Homo sapiens: one gene and its partner. The protein of the gene in region 1 purifies or fractionates together with the protein of each later gene. This does not show direct contact. Each region holds a gene or a part of one and is shown on either strand. Other genes may lie near its edges.

Region 1 (3,764 bases):
TGGAACTTGACCCAAAGCTCTTTGCATCTCCCCTTCTTTGAAGAGAAGCAAACAGGCCAGGCTGTGCGGGGCAGGCCTGAAGTGAGGGGTGGTGTTTGAGCCCGGCTCTGGCTGCCGTCAGTGGCCCACTGAGCTCCTTAGGAAGCCCCAGCCTCCCGGGGCCTGGGACCAGCCTGCATGGAGCCTGAGTGGGCATAGTCCCAAGGAGGTTCCTGGTGGGGTGGCTAGAAGAGGTGGCCTAAGCCGGGAGGGTTAGGATTGGGTACCAACTTCGAGTCTCAGGCATGAACACAGGTTCTGGAGAAATCCAGGACCCAGCTTCTTGGATAAGGCCTGCTGTCTGCTCAGGTCCACCCCTGGACAGTCGGATCTATAGCTGGGGCCCTTGTGCAGCACCCTCCTCCAAGTGTATGCCTGGATGCTATTGGCTCCCCAATTCATTCACTCTAGTCCAGTCCTGTTCCCAACAGCAAAGGCTTTGAGATCATCCCATTCATTCATTCATTGATTTTTTTCTTTTATTCTGAGCCTGGGTGAGACCTAGTAGGACCACAATATTTGTCTGAAGGGGTTCTGACTTGGTTGCATAAAATGACCCCAGAAGGTACTCCAGTCCAGGCTACATAGATCTGATCCATCTTCCCCAAAATAGACCTGGTTAATCCTCCGTGGGCCCTTCTGCCCCCAGGAGTCTGCCAGGAAGTTATGTCTGGTCATCTGATTTATAATAGGAACCAGCTCCATCCCCTCCTCTAGGGCTGGGGCCAAGGTGGTCAGGCTGTGGGGGCCTTAGGAAAATAAACTCAGTCCAGCCAGGTCCTGGCAGCCCTAACCTGCCCTACCCATCCCTAGACAGGCCAGCTCCATGACCTGGCCCAACTGGCGTGGGTGCAGCTGCCCTCAGCCGGAAAACCACTCCTGAAATAACTCCGTCTGAGGTGAATGCCTCAGGGCAGGGTCTGTGCCCTCTCATGGGCTCCCGCCCTAGCCAGGGAGAGCCCAGGGATGTCCTCAGGGAGGCTGAGGAGGACATGCAGAGCCACGTCCTCTCATGACTGAGGCAACTTTGGCCTAGCTCTCAGTGGTGTGGGAAGGAGAAGCTAAGTTGCACACCCGGAGGCCTGGGTTGGAAGTGCTGGATGGCCCCCAGGAAGCTATGGCTTAAGTCATGGTGCAGACCTCTGCCTTACCCTCCAGTGACTCTCAGTCTAGTCAGAAAGACCCTCAGGACCAGGACTGGTGACATAATTTAGCCAGGGTCCCTTCCAAGCACGGGGGCCTGTGCAGCTGCATGAAGTCAGCCCTGCTTAGGAAAGCCACCTTGGTCATCATAGGGTCCACAGGGGTTTTGTCAAGATGCTGAGCCTCCTGCCAGGGTCTGGTGGGTGAGACACATGTGGGTGGATGGGGGCGGGCCTGAAGGAAGGCGGATGCCATTCCTTGGGTCTCTGAACCCCAGCCCCAGCCAAGCCTGCTCTGTCCTCCCTACAGTCATCACGCTGTGCTGTGTCTTCAACTGTCGTGTGCCACGGACCCGGAAGGAGATCGAAGCCCGGTACCTGCAGCGAAAGGCAGCCAAGATGTACACAGACAAGCTGGAGACTGTGCCACCCCTCAATGAGCTCACAGAAGTCCCAGGAGGTGAGTTGGCCCTGGCTTGAGCCCTGCTGCGCCAGCCAGTTCCTCAGTCCTGCTGCCTGGAGTCACCCTGTTCCTCTGCTCCAACCAAAGCAGGTTCAGGGAGGGGCCCCAGCCCTGCCCCTGGAGACCAGAGCACAGAAATTGGTTGGCATGAGGCAAATAGAACGATGAGCCTATTCTCCAGTAGGAAGAAGGAAGAAAAAGGCAGAGTGTAGGAGGTTCTGGGGCTCTTCCCCTCAGGACAGTCAGACCCCAGGACCTTGTCTCACCACTATCACATGGTCTCTTCCCCCTGCCCCACAGAGGATAAGAAGAAGAAGAAGAAGAAGAAGAAGGACAGTGTGGACACAGTGGCCATCAAAGTAGAGGAGGATGAGAAGAATGAGGCCAAGAAGAAGAAAGGAGAGAAATGAAGACATCCTGGGCAGCTTGGGCTGGCGGGCCCTGGAGCTCAAGCCGTGGCCGGGGTCCAGGCATGTTGGACTCTGAGCTCATTTGGGGACCACAGAGGCTGTGGTCAGAGAGGGAAGCTGAGGCCCATGGCCACATCCTCATGGCCCATCAGGGGCAGGAACCAGACAATCTCGTAGGTGTCCTGCCCCCCAGCCTAGGCTTGGCTCCTTTCACCCCATCCACATGGGTACTGTCTCGGCAGAGGTGGTCTGGTGCCACCGTCCCTCTGCAGATACACTGCTCTCCCCACCCAGACCTGCCTGTCTCCCACCCTTTCTGCCAGGGATGGCAGTGGCTGTGAAGGAGTAATGGGATATGGGGTTACTTCAGCCACCCTTTCTGGCACGAAATGGCTGAAGTGCATGGGTCAGGGTGTGAGGCCACACCCAGAGTAGCCATGAGGAGGCAGAGAGGGTCACTGGGGGACACTGTGGCAGCAGGAGGGACTCTGTCTGGCCAGGGAGGAGCCCCAGTGGTGAGAAGACTTCCCCAAGCCTGGCAGGGGATCCAGCTCAAGGGAGTAAGTAGAGGTGGCTTCAGAAATGGAACCCCCAGCCCAGCAGACATCAAGCTCAAGGCAATGGGCTACCCTCATTTCACACGTTGTGATGAAGCTGAGGCTGCTGCCAGGCCCGGCATGAGGCCCCGAGGCTCGAGCTCGGGGCTGGGGGCTGCAGGGCTGGGTCAGGGGTACACAGAGCTAAGGCCAATGGGCTAGAGGGTGCCGGAAAGAGAGCTGGAGTCTGGGCTCCTCTTGGGAATCAGAGTATATTTAAGAAGCCAAGGGGGACCTCGGGCTGTTCTGGTGGCCCCTTCTATGCCCAGCTGTGCTGGGAGGTCCCAGGGCCCTAGAAGATCACAGCAGGGCCTTCTGCCTGCTGACCATAACAGTGCCAGCTTCTTTGCAGCTTCCTCTTCTACCATTTCCCACTACGGGCACCTAAAAGAAGCATCTCTGACCAGAAGACAAAGGCCCAAATAGCACCTGGGGGAGGGAAGATGCACAGAGGCACTTCCAGATGGCATCGAACAGACTAAGGCTCTGAAACCTAGGCCTGAACACTAAGGTCTCGAGACACCAGAGGTTTCTGAGCCAGGAGAGCCTGCTGGAAAAGCAGCCTGCAGAGATTTGTGAATAAAGCTGATTGCCTTCTCAGAGCCAGGCCTAGAAAATGGCCTCCTGAGATGACCCCTCAGGATGCGCTATTCCTGGGGCATTTATGTGGAGGGTGATGCAGCAGTCAGTGACAGATGGCTCAGGCCAGGCCAAAGTCCCCTCCCTGACTCTTCTGCCAGCCTGAATTAGGATGAGATAGAGGGAGAAATGGGAGCCAAGAGGCTGAGGGGCAGCTGCAGTCACCTGGGCCCATCCCGGAGGCAGGCACAGGACTCGGGAGGGACGCTGCCAGCTCTCTGGGTGCTGAGTTCACAAGGCTGCATTCATGATTTTCAATAGACCTGTGATGGTCTGTGCCCAGTGCTGGGGACACAGAAGAGTCAAACCTGGCTCCTGACCTGGACCTGGATCATCACTGTACAGGGAGGAGAGTGATCCAGGCTGATGAGGAAAGCGCATGACATGGGGTCTTAGGAGCAGTGAGGGGCAGAGCCATGGCCAAAGGCCCCGCCATGGAAGCTGAGGACTCTGACACCAGATGGAGGCAGTTGAC
Region 2 (3,766 bases), on another chromosome or scaffold:
CACACACCACTACACCTGGCTAATTTTTGTATTTTTAGGAGAGACGGGGTTTCACCTTGTTGGCCAGGCTGGTCTCAAACTCCTGACCTCAAGTGATCTGCCCGCCTTGGCCTCCCAAAGTACTGGGATTACAGGTGTGAGCCACTGCACCCAGCTGTTGACCACATTCTTAAATATGAAAACTTAAGGACTGTTATTCTGTAGATATTTTTTCTGATTATTTCCCCATTATTTTTTACAAGTCTGCCACAGGTGTGTATTTAGCAGCTTTACCAACTCCTGGTGGTATTCAGATTGCTGGGAAGACTCCTAATGATGGCTCATATGAACAACACATCTCTCATATGCAGAAGAAGATAAATGACACAATTGCTAAAAACAAAGAGTTATATGAAATCAATCCTCCAGTAAGTAAAACAAACCTACATTGTGAATGTATCAGTTATTGTTTATTAGTATATTTTTAGGTTATCTTATTGAGGACACAAGATTTTTTTTTCACTGTTTAGCTCTCCTTATTACTCATTCTTTCACCTCCCTTTATGTCTTTGCTCAACTGTCTCCTTTTCGGGTAAGCCTACTCTAACGATCCTATTTAAAAATTGTGACTTCATTTTTGCCACTTCCTATGACTTTTCCCTCTTTTATTGTTTTCTATAGCTCTTATCTTTGTGAGTGTGTGTGTGTGTGAGTGTGTGTGTGTGTGTGAGTGTGTGTGTTTTGTTGGTCTTTTGCCTGTTAGTACTGGTAGAATGAAGCTTCATGAGGGCTTTGTTTCTATTGCCTAGAAAAGTTCCTATTGGTGGTAGTCTCTTAGTATTTGTTGAATGATGAAATAAATGGTTTAAAATGTTCTTTGTTAGTAAAAAGAGATTCTTATTGGTGGTAAAAATGTGAAAGAATATAGTTTTTCAGTTACAGTTTCTTTTTTTACAAATTTGCTCCCAGTCATTTCCTTTAATCAGTCTTTTTACCAACTTTGCAATAAGTATCACAATGCTGCCTCCTCTGTGGATGACTGATGGCAAGAGTCTGAATTGAAAGAAAAATGGGTTGGAATTAGAATGAAACTATTTGTTTTTATGAGTCTCTGATAATGAAAGACTTTCACAAAAGGAAAGTATAACATTCACACGTATACATATGTAACAAACCTGCACATTGTGCACATGTACCCTAAAACTTAAAGTATAATTAAAAAAATAAAAAAAGAAAGTATAACATTATTGCTTTTATTATTTTAAACGTCTTATCTAATTTTGGCTGGTCTTCTGGAACAGTGTGTCTGGATTGTTGCGTCACATGTATAGCTTTCATCATATTATTCTAGCATAGTTGTTAATTTGGGAGGAATTTTAAGGTTATGACCTACAGCTGCACTATTCATTATTCACTGTGGTAGCCGCTGGCCACATGTGACTTTTGAGGACTTGTGACTAGTCTGAATTGAAATGTGTAGTAAGTATAAAATATACACTGGATTTTAAAGATTTACTGTGAAAAAGTAGTGTAAAATATGAATATTTTTGTATTGATTTTGTGTCAAAAATTTAATATTTTGGATATACTGAATGAAATAAAATGTTTTATTAAAATGGATTTTATCTGTTTCTTTTTACTTTATTATGTATGTGGCTTGCTTTATATTTCTATTGAACAATACTGACTTAGGGCTTCTTTAAAATGAATGCAAATGTTGATGTGTTAACATATTCATATTTGAAAAATAGACTTTGTAAAAGTTCTCTGTGCACCACTCTACTGACTGCTTATTTTTATAGTACATTATTTTTATTTGGTAGTTATATTTTGATATTTGAACATCTGTTTATAGTATGCCACTTGGGAAAAATGATTTGTAAAGCTTTGTGTTAGGGTTTCATATATTCTTCATTTATTATTTCTAATGATATGAGCTGAACTTTTTTACTTACTTAATAGTGTTTCTCACCTCTGTAAATCCATCCTGACCTCTAACAGGAAGAATGGACTCTTCCTCCATTGTGTACTTGTTGTACCTGTATGTACTTGTATAGAAACTGTTACATATTATTGTACTTAGTTTTTATATATCTGTCTTCCTTTACTATAATGTAAGCCCTTTGGAGACAGGGATGTGTTTAAATAAGACTATGAATTAAGTTACTTCATCCATTCAGTACTTATTGAGCTGCTACTATGTGTCATACAGTTTACATTTGGAAGGAGGGAGTAAATCTATTATGATTTTAAAAATTTTAACATATATGAATTTCATGTGTTGAGGATGACTGTATTTTCACAACAGTACTCATCAGTTTATGCATCTTCTAATATGTCTTTCCTTATTGTAGATACTGACTACATTATAGTCTTTTAGCATAATCTCTCAGCATTTTTTTTGACAGAGTCAGTGTACAAGGTTGATTACCAGGCCACTATACACATTACAGTGTTGTGTTATGTCCACCCTGAATATGTAGATCAGAGTGTTCCTTCTCTTAGGATGATAGCCCTCACTGAAATAAATGCTGCTGTTTAAATTTTTTGTCAATACATTAAAAAATGTTTCTAATACAAAGGTGTAGTACCACTTAAGCTTTATGGAGATAATCAAAGGTATCAAAATAAGATGCACATCTCTCAGAATAACAGTACTAGTGATGAAATTTCAGTATGAATCTAGAACATATTAAATACCAGACAGTTATATTTGTTAAGTCTGTGGCATTGTGAACAAAGGCATAACAGAATTTAAAACTATTGTAAAATTATAAAAAGTAGTGTGGTATCTAGTGGGAATAACGTTGCACTGTGTGTCAAAAGACTGACCTAGACTGGCTCTACACTTGCTAGTTTTCCAAATTTAGGCAGACTACTAATTTACTTCTGAATTACAGCTCTTTTCCATTTTGTAGTTATTATAATGTTAACTTTATAGAGGGCAGATTAATTTGGAGTACAAATAAGATAAATTGATGTGAAAGTGCTCCATAGATCATTACATTATGAAATTGTGCAGTGGTAGTCTTTTATCTAAGGTGCATACTACCAATGAACATTTAAAACTATATATTTTTGAAAAATTTTATGTACAATTTCCTTGTTTATTAAAAAGACAATTCTGTTGCATCAGCAATAGGCTATGGCTTTTGCTTTTGCGTTCACGTATTCATATTCTTCCAGCATTCCTTGTGGCCGACAGACACTTAGAACCCCTAGTGATCTTTGGCTATGTAACAGCAAAAAGCTCACTAAGCCATACAGTATTGCACCATACACTGACCTTAAAAAGATCATTATTGTAAGTACCAATGTTTATTTAGCTTAATAAATTGAATAGCAAATATGTGCATAGTATAAGTATATATGTATTCATACTCATACATTGATCATATTTCACATTTTGCTATATGGAGCTTTGAAAGTGGATAAGAAAATATATAAAAGATTAGAATTCTTTCTAGGAACATAAGTCTTTAAATTTTTAAGGCCTATTAGGACTTTTATAATGCTGAATAGAAAATATGCACACACAGCAGTACTGGATTTCAGAGCTGTAAGGACTGCCAATTCCATACACATTGTAGTGTCCTGTGTGTACACTAGATGTCAGTTTTATCTTGTTATGTCTGTGACAGTTATATATATTTTTCTGATTCGTGTATCATTAAGGCTGCCATATCTGCTATAAAAGTTTAGTTTTAAAGGTTATACTTAAGTACGGACTTCACTGAGTATATTTTACAGGCTTTTTCTCCACAGGTAGGTGTCTACTAATATAAAG

What was found.
Region 2: the proteins of TMIE (region 1) and C2CD5 purify together in Homo sapiens (affinity purification with mass spectrometry; one large-scale study listed by BioGRID and IntAct). This does not show direct contact.

What each region holds. Positions count from the first base shown.
Region 1 is NC_000003.12:46,707,635-46,711,398, forward strand, and holds the end of TMIE (transmembrane inner ear expressed protein isoform 1 precursor), read left to right. Parts: intron 1-1,491; coding exon 1,492-1,641; intron 1,642-1,944; coding exon 1,945-2,054; 3' UTR 2,055-3,252; downstream 3,253-3,764. UniProt on the Homo sapiens protein: Auxiliary subunit of the mechanotransducer (MET) non-specific cation channel complex located at the tips of stereocilia of cochlear hair cells and that mediates sensory transduction in the auditory system.
Region 2 is NC_000012.12:22,474,954-22,478,719, reverse strand, and holds part of C2CD5 (C2 domain-containing protein 5), read left to right. Parts: intron 1-242; coding exon 243-407; intron 408-3,766. UniProt on the Homo sapiens protein: Required for insulin-stimulated glucose transport and glucose transporter SLC2A4/GLUT4 translocation from intracellular glucose storage vesicle (GSV) to the plasma membrane (PM) in adipocytes.